Regions from separate parts of the Homo sapiens genome. Here region 2 is linked to region 1. Evidence: fine-mapped expression QTL. Tissue or cell type: sun-exposed skin. Region 1 holds a variant in brackets; the other region holds the start of a gene. All regions are shown on one strand. Distances are between the middles of the regions.

The links. PIP is the estimated chance that this variant, and not a neighbour inherited with it, causes the effect.
Region 2: TMTC3 starts here. The variant in region 1 is fine-mapped to the expression of TMTC3 in sun-exposed skin (GTEx, PIP above 0.99). The same link has a PIP of 0.9 or more in unexposed skin.

Annotation. Positions count from the first base shown.
Region 1 is chr12:88,105,734-88,109,980 of GRCh38, forward strand. It overlaps CEP290 (centrosomal protein 290), which reads right to left. Exons shown (of 54, transcript NM_025114.4): 23 at 3,333-3,448; 24 at 1,263-1,365; 25 at 942-1,172. Among named protein-coding and RNA genes, the nearest start is that of CEP290, 34 kb to the right of the region's middle. The variant A/G (reference allele first, on the strand shown) is at 1,962.
Region 2 is chr12:88,140,163-88,144,409 of GRCh38, forward strand. It overlaps TMTC3 (transmembrane O-mannosyltransferase targeting cadherins 3), which reads left to right and starts at 2,145. Exons shown (of 14, transcript NM_181783.4): 1 at 2,145-2,325. CEP290 (centrosomal protein 290) reads right to left here and starts at 1,926. Exons shown (of 54, transcript NM_025114.4): 1 at 1,738-1,926; 2 at 1,044-1,172; 3 at 794-871. The coding sequence starts at 1,145. RefSeq lists enhancers at 1,766-2,205, 2,012-2,515.

The DNA.
Region 1 (4,247 bases):
TCTTCTTTTTTTCTTTTAAGAGAGAGACTCGCTCTGTTATACAGGCACATAGGCTGGAGATCAGTGGCACATGATCACAGCTCACTGCAGCCCCCAACTTCCTGGGCTCAAGCGATCCTCCCACCTCAATGTCCCAGGTAGCTGGGATTACAAGCATGTGCCACTACACCAAGCTAATTAAAAACAAACAAACAAAAAAAAAAACATTTTTTGTAGAGACGGAGTCTCACTATATTGCCTAGGCTGGTCTGGGCTCAGGAAATTTTCCTGCCTGGGCCTTCCAAAATGTTGGAATTATAGGCATGAGCCACCATACTTGGTCTGCTTGTCTTTTCCTTAACAGAGTAATCAATTACAAAACATGGAACAACCAGATACTCTTGAAGTGATGCAATATAAAGTATAGAACACTACTTATGAAGTATTCTTGCCAAAAATGTTTAAACCTGAATGTAACTTAGGGTTCTGACCTAACTTTTAGTAATACAAGGGACACAGGAACAAGTAAAATGACACACACACAAAAGTTAGATACATCTTCAAACATTTTTTGGAGAAAAAGAAAACCAAGGGGATTCTATATTAAAAAGATTTATGAGATGTAACATCCAAATGCTTATTCTTTGATCAAAAAATGTAAAAAATGTGACTATAATCAGGGTATTAGGCGATATTAGAAAATTACTGTCATTTTGTTAGGTATAATAAAGTTACTATGGTTAGTTAAAGAAAAAAGCCTTTTTCAAAAGGGTACATTAAATATTTAGGGGAGGAATGTCTGCAATTCAAACATCCCACAAAAATCAGAAGAAGCAATTATGACAAAATGTTAATAAATGTTAACTATTAATTCAGGTGATGAGCATTATTGATACCATCCTATCTTCTGCATATTTGAAATTTTTCATAGTCAGAAAAAGCAAAATAAGAATCAGATGTACCTTAAATCTTTGCAAACACCCAATTTTTTCACAAACTTCAGCCTCCATTGACAACAATTCATTCTTTTGCTTCTCATTTTCTTTTCTAAGTTGTCGCTCCAATTCTACTAAGGTTGTATATTGCCTTATAAGTGATTTTTCATTCACTTGCAAAACAGTAATTTTCCTACTATTTTCTGCAAGTATTTTTTTCATTTCATCCGAATCCATCTGAAGAGCATTGAGCAAATTCTGCACAAAGACACATCCATATTACTTGTTGAATCTAGCTATCCTACTTTGTACAATATTGCATACTAATGTTAAAAATGTTTTACTTACATTATATTCTTTTACTTTTATAGCATCTTGTTGGACTTGATCCTCAAGTTTTCTCTTTTCCTCTTTTATTGTTTTAGATTCTGTTTTCCAGGTCTCCTTTTCACTAAAAACAAAACAAAACAAAAAGACAATACTGTAAACCTAATAAAATGTTTATAAGAAAAGATAACTTCAGATTATGCAAATTTAAAGTTTTCTCAACACAAGAGGTATCATAGCTATTCAGTATCTGAAAACACAAGAAGTTAAACTTTCATTTAAAAAGGGTTTAGCCTAGAATTAAAAATTTTTTAAATAAATGCAAGGCAACAAAGTTATCAAATTATTTTCATTCTTCCCTGATTCACCACTAAATGGGTTATAATATAATTGAAGCTGAATCTTATAAACATTTTATTGAACACAGAAAAAAAGTAGGAAAATAATACCCTATACTAATTCTAGAAATCAAATTCCAACATTCTGACCCCACTCTCAAATTTGGGTGTTAAATGCTTACAAAATAATTTGAATACAAACACATCTTAAGTCTAATTAAAATAGTGACCAAAGTTAATAACAGTATATTATATACTTTAAAATTGCTAAGAGAGTAAATTTTAAGTGTTCTTAGTGCAAAAAAAAAAAAAAATAAGAAGAAGTATGCTGTAATCCCAGCACTTTGGGAGGCCAAGGTGGGCAGATTGCTTGAGGCTAGGA[A/G]TTTTGAGACTAGCGTGGACAATATGGCAAAACTCCGTCTTTACCAAAAATACAAAAATTAGCCAGGCGTGGTGGCACATGCCTGTAATCTCAGCTACTTGGGAGGCTGAGGCAAGAAAATAACTTGGACCCAGGAGGCAGAGGTTGCAGTGAGCCAAGATAGCGCCACTGCACTCCAGCCTGGGTGACAGAGCAAGACTCTGTCTCAAGGAAAAAAAAAAAAAAGTATGCGAGGTAATACATATGTTAAGTAGCTTGATTTAGCCATTCCACAGTATATACATATATAGAACACCATGTTGTATAGCATAGTATATACATATATAGAACACCATGTTGTATAGCATAGTATATACATATATAGAACACCATGTTGTATACCATAAATTCTTGTGAATTTAAAAAGTAATTTAAAACATATTTATATATAAATTATTTTTTTGAAGTTGTGTAAGACACTGTTGTCTACACATGAGCATTCCACAAACATGTGTAATGTTCTTGGCATAAACCCAGTATAGCGGTATCATTCTCTTTGCAACTGAATGGTTCAGACTTGGACATGTGATCCAATTCTAGCAAATGAGATCGGAGTCAATGTCTGCCAGGTATCACCAGAAAAAAATGTTTATTTAAAAATAAAAGCTATGTAGAAAAAAATGCTCCTCTTCTTCAATGGGCACATCATCTTTCTTGAATTCATGCAGCTATTTTACAACCATCATAGGCGATAACAACAACCTTCAAATATGACCTGCCCTACAACTAGCTTTGTGGTTCTGGTTAGGTCAGATAATAATTATTCTTAGTGTTTAAATCACCTTTGATTAGGTATTCTAATTCCTATTAAGGAAATCATTCTATTGATTTAGATGAGATGACAGAAATAAGGAGAAATATGTTAGTTCCCTATAAACATATATGAACAATGATGATTGTGATGATGATGAATGATGCTAACAACAGCTAACATTTACAAACTGTTCATATGTGCCACACACTAGTCCGAGCATTTTCATCTAATAATTCATTTACGTTTTACAATAATCCTATGAAAAGGGTATTACTTACAAAGTAACTTACAGATAAGGAAACTGAGACACAGATAGGTAAGATGACTTGCTCAAGCTCTTACAAAAAGCAAACGTTAAATGACTCAAACCCAGGCAGGATAATCCCAGGCTTAATGTAATCATTAAGCTACACTGTCTCCATAAATAAGTTCCTAACAGTAGTTACCAGAGTAAAAAAAAATACAATTGCAAAGGAAGAAGAAGAAGGGAAGAACAAAACATAAATTATTCTTACGTTACTTTCACAATTAACAAGAATATACTGCAATTATATTTATAGTTTTGCTAATACCTATACCTTAGGTATTCTTTATACAACAAACTTTGTTGATGACGAATTACAGCAAATTTTCTGTTGTAATCTTCAAGAGAATCTTCTAAATTCTTTAACTTTTTTTCTTTATTTTCTAGTTCCTGAAAAGTGGTTTAGAAATAAGAATGCAAAAAAAAACACAATAGAATAAATGCTGAATTTGAAAGTATAAATTCATATTCTGACAACATTATAGGAAAGTTAAAAGTCACCAAATCTGTAAGCAACACAGATCATTTTTCCATGATATTTTGAACACTTTAGTTTAAGGCATAAAAAAAGAGTACTATACAACAGGTAAAGTTATTTTTAGCACACAAATTACCAGATTACAAAGTTTTATTAGATAGAATAGTTATAAACTCGCCTCTAGTCACTCGGCCACATACCCTCTCTTATGAACACATAATTTCATACCCTCACTCAAATTATCCTTTCCAATTATTTCATTTTAAAGATGAAATTGAAATTTAAATAACTTACTCAATATCCAAAAACTCATTAACACTACACTTGGCAATCATTTTTACCAAGTACATATGCTAGGCTTGTTGTCAGGTGCTTTCCATATACATGGATCCAACATTTGAGTTTGGGTCTGTCTGACTCCAAAGGTCTTGCCACGTTTATAGCTCTATACAGCCTTAGGATTGAGAGTCTAAGTACCTGTTTTGCCACTTTGGACAGCTTTTCAGACTCCCAGTTGGTACTCTCTAATCTACTACAAACTTCTGATATATTTCTTATACAAAGATTAAAAATCATGAATTTTATCTCAAAAAATACGACAATGCCATACTACCAATATTTGCTGATAGTGTTCCTATACCTCAGGTAAATAAGAGAAATAATAATGTTAAAATTATACATTTAAAAATAATAATATCACATACAAAGCAA
Region 2 (4,247 bases), 34 kb after region 1:
TCCCTTTGTAATGTCTTTCCACTACTTTTTTTCTGTTCCAATTGCTATTATTCTAATCCATAATTTCAGGTTTAAACTCCGCTATAATGTGATGTCTACAAAGCTCCAATTTCCTTCAGTTTGTCCTACATAATATACTCAGTTTTGCCTTCTTAAGGTGTATTTTTGTACCTATCAATTGTGTTTCGAAAACCTTTACTGCCTTCTCAATTGCTGATAGCATAAAATACACCTTTAAGGCCCTCAACAACCTATCTCAAAGTACTTACCCAAGATTTGTTTTCTCTACAGTCTGCTACAAACTTGCTGCACCTTGTTTCCTCAAATATAAAGAATAAACATATTTCCTGTTCTCAGTATTTATTTATGGTAACCAACAGCTCTAGAATTCCCTTACTATCTTACCACTGCATTGCCTTCCACTTATCTAACACTACTCCTCAGTATTGATCCTTTGTGAAGTCTTCTGACATCTCTTAAATCATTTCCCCTCTTAACAAATCCCTATAGCAGTCATTGTCTGCATTTGTCATTTGGACCTCAAGATATATTTCCTTATGTTACTTTTCAACATACTCATTCTATTTCCCCTACACACCCTTTTAGAAACTTTAAGTAGAAACTAGCAATGTTTTATACACTAAAATACTTAATTCACATTTAAATATATTGCATTTTTTAGTGGTGATGTAGATATTACCAGGTATTTTCACAAAGATTACCTTATATAAGAACAGATTTTTATAGTTCCACTAATAGCCAAACCTATAGTTAAAACCTACTACATACAAACCTTCATTAGTGACTGAGTAATTCTGAAAAGGTGTATCACATTTTCTTGCTTTTCACTTTTTAGCTCATTTACTTCCACCTAAGTAAACAGAAAAGCAACTGTTTTATATTTTATAACCTTCAAGCAAAATATAAGAACACTTCCAGATTGTGACAATTATAGTTGTCCCTGAAAAAAATAAATTCATATTTTATTAATAAATTAATCATAAGTTAATGTATATATCTATTATTATTGACCAATTAAGCACCTTGGATAAGGAAATCAATAAATTATCTGCCAGTTCTTCTTGACGGGGCAGGTCATCTGGGTCAACTTTCATTATTTCTTTCCAGTTTATATTAGGTGGCATCTTGAATTCTTTCACTGTGCTCCACCTCTGTAACAAAACAGGTGTATATTAGCATTTTCAAGGTACACAGTATTATTGGTTTTCTAGCACCTTACATTTTTTGCAGATTATTTCATTATAACTTTCTGATGTTAGCAAAACAGACAATTGGGCCACAAAATAGACAAGTGGGCAAAATAGCCTTGATCAAAAATAGCAGTCGGCACAAACTGTCAGAGTGTCCCGGCTAAATAAAATGTGACGGCTTCCTTGCTAACACTAATCTAAGTTAATACTTAAGATTTCTGGATCCCTTCCTCCACACCCCTACCCACAATGCGCGCGAACACCCTAATCCTGGCAAGCGCGAGGGTCTGTGGAAGGCCGACAATCATCCCTGATTTGGAGAAACAGAATTGGGGCTGAAAAAAAACGCAGAAATTAACATTTGGAATGAGTGAAGTTGTGCGGCGGAAACTGGAACCGAAGCAAGGCAGTATTAGGGACCCGAGGCTGGAAGGGCGGGGTAGCTATGCTGTGGCACACGGGCCCTCAGGCTAAAGAACCTGAGCGTGGAGTGACTCGCTAATCCTGCTTACAAGGATCCACCCACCTAGACCAAGCCTGGCAACCAGCGGAGGCCTCTCACTACCGCAACCACCAAGCTGGACCCGGCCGCGGGCCCTGACAGATCCCTATCGCGGTTCCACGCGGACTCTGGGTCCAGCCAAATGGTCCCGAGCAAGCCAAAGCGGCAGCGGCTGCTAGGCGACACCATCCCCAACTCCGCCAAGGCCAGAATAAGATCCCGGATGCCAGGAGAGCCTACAGTTCACGACCGTGGGTGATGCTTTACGTTTAGATTCTCCGCCGGAGTCCCAGAGCTCGGTGTTCAGGATGATGAGAAGGCGTGGAACGAGGACTTCAAATCCCAGAGTGCAGTTCTGCCTGAGGCTTCTGCATGCTGGGAACTGAAGTCCCTGAGAAGAGGAGGTAAGGCGCTCCCGGCATGCAACGCGTAAGACTGCGACGGTACCGGGGCGGCGGGGAAGGACCGAGAGGCGGGAGGAGCAGCGGCTCAGGCGCCTGCAAACTGGTGGCCTGAACGAGGTAGACCATGACTGTGGTTTCAGTGGCGTCACTCGCTGGGCTGCTCTTCCTGAGGTTTTCCTAAGCCATCCCCTGGCGGAACCGCCCCCAGGTGAGGTCGAGCTGTCGGTCAGCATATTGGGAGGAATTGAGGGGAGCAGTCCTGGGTTAGAGAAGCTTCTGCTATTGGGGCCGTAGGGCCTGGTCCCATTCTGAAAAAGTGGGAACACCCTGCCTTCTCTTCAGGCGTTTGCAAGCGGCGTCCAGGGTAGTGCCTTCTGTAAGAAGGAAAAAACAAAAAGTTTTAGCCTTGTTTAGTATCAGAATCTGTCTTGATAGTTAGAGTGAGAGCCGCGCAGCCGTGATCCTCGTTTGGGGGCGAGCGAAGAATTGACAAGAGGTCTCGGCATCCCGACCCCGCCCGCCTTACCTGTAGCACCATTCCTTTCGCGGATCGTGGGGCTTGATGGTTGTGGAGCTAGTATAAAGTCAAGGCTCTAGAGAGGAGAGGTTAGTACTTGTCCGGACCACTGCCGGGGGTGGAGAGAGAAGGGATCCAAGGACTCACCTGTACTATTGTTGCCACTTGCTTGGTTACCTAGGGTGCCCTTCCATGAAAGCGCCTTCTCTGGTGTTTACCACTCTTACTCGTGCAAGTTTTGCTCATCCTGCTCGTCTGCTCACAATCATGCTGGAGTATGATACATCTCTACCTAACTTTCCTAAGAAGCTGTAGACTTAAATCTAAATGACATTTCCAACTATCTGGACCAGTGCTTTGTCTTTTTTTTTTTTTAAACGCTGCTTTAAAAAAAAAATTACTGTACTTGACAGTAAATTTTCCTTTCGAAAATAAGTAATGAGTTTCTTTTTAAACCCCCAATTTGGGTAAAATAAGTAGCTCAGTACAAAATAAAAAGATACTGATTTTGTGAGATGAATTTTAAAGACATTAGTTAGATTTATAGGAATGACAATTTTACTACTTTTCTGAAAGATTATATGCCAAATACTATTCATTATCTTGTTTATTCTTCCTTACAATCCAGTGAAATAGGTGCTTACATTGTCCTCATTTTCCATCTGAGTTAAGAAACTGAGGCTTGGAGAAGCTAAGTAACTTAAATAGTGTGATTGAACACAGATCTCTCTGGCTGGAGGACATATTCTTAACTTCTATACACCTCCTCAGACATTCTGGGAAACCAATATTTGTGAAGTGCTTGTTCCTCAATCTTGCTATTTTTATTAAATGTTATATTTTAATTTTGTAAGTGTTTACTCAATAATTTGAATTAAACATTCTTCATGTTCAGTGTTCTTAATTCATAATTTAACATGGGATGGTGTTTCTGGAAAGGTGTTCTGATCTGGACCCCAGGAGAGGGCTCCTGGATCTCGCCAAGAAAGAATTGGAGGTGCATACACCCCCATTGGAGGTGGTAGACTAAGGATTGTTATAGTTATTTCTTGATTATATGCTAAACAAGGGGTGGGTTATTCATGAGTTTTCTGGGAAGAGGGTAGGCCATTCCTAGATCTGAGTGTTCCTCCCCTTTTTAGACTATATAGAGTAACTTCTTCACATTGCCATGGCATCTGTAAACTGTCATAGCACTGGTGGGAGTGTCTTTTAGGATGCTAATGCATTATAATTAGTGTATAATGAGCAGTGAGAACGAGCAGACGTCCCACCTTTCTCGCCATCTTGGATTTGGTGGGATTTGGCTGGCTTCTTTACTGCATGCTGTTTTATCAGCAAAGTCTTTATGATCAGTATCTTGTGCCCACCTCCTATCTCATCCTGTGACTTAGAATGACTGACAGACATCCTGAGAATGCAGCCCAGTAGGTCTCACCCTTATTTTACCCAGCCCCTATTCAAGATGGAGTTGTTGTGATTCAAATACCTCTGACAATGGTAGGAATGAAATTTAATAGTTACTGAGCACATGTTATGTCATACACTATGCTGACTACTGCGTGTTTGTTTTCATAATAGAAGTCTGTTTTCTCTAACACCTTTTCTTCTGT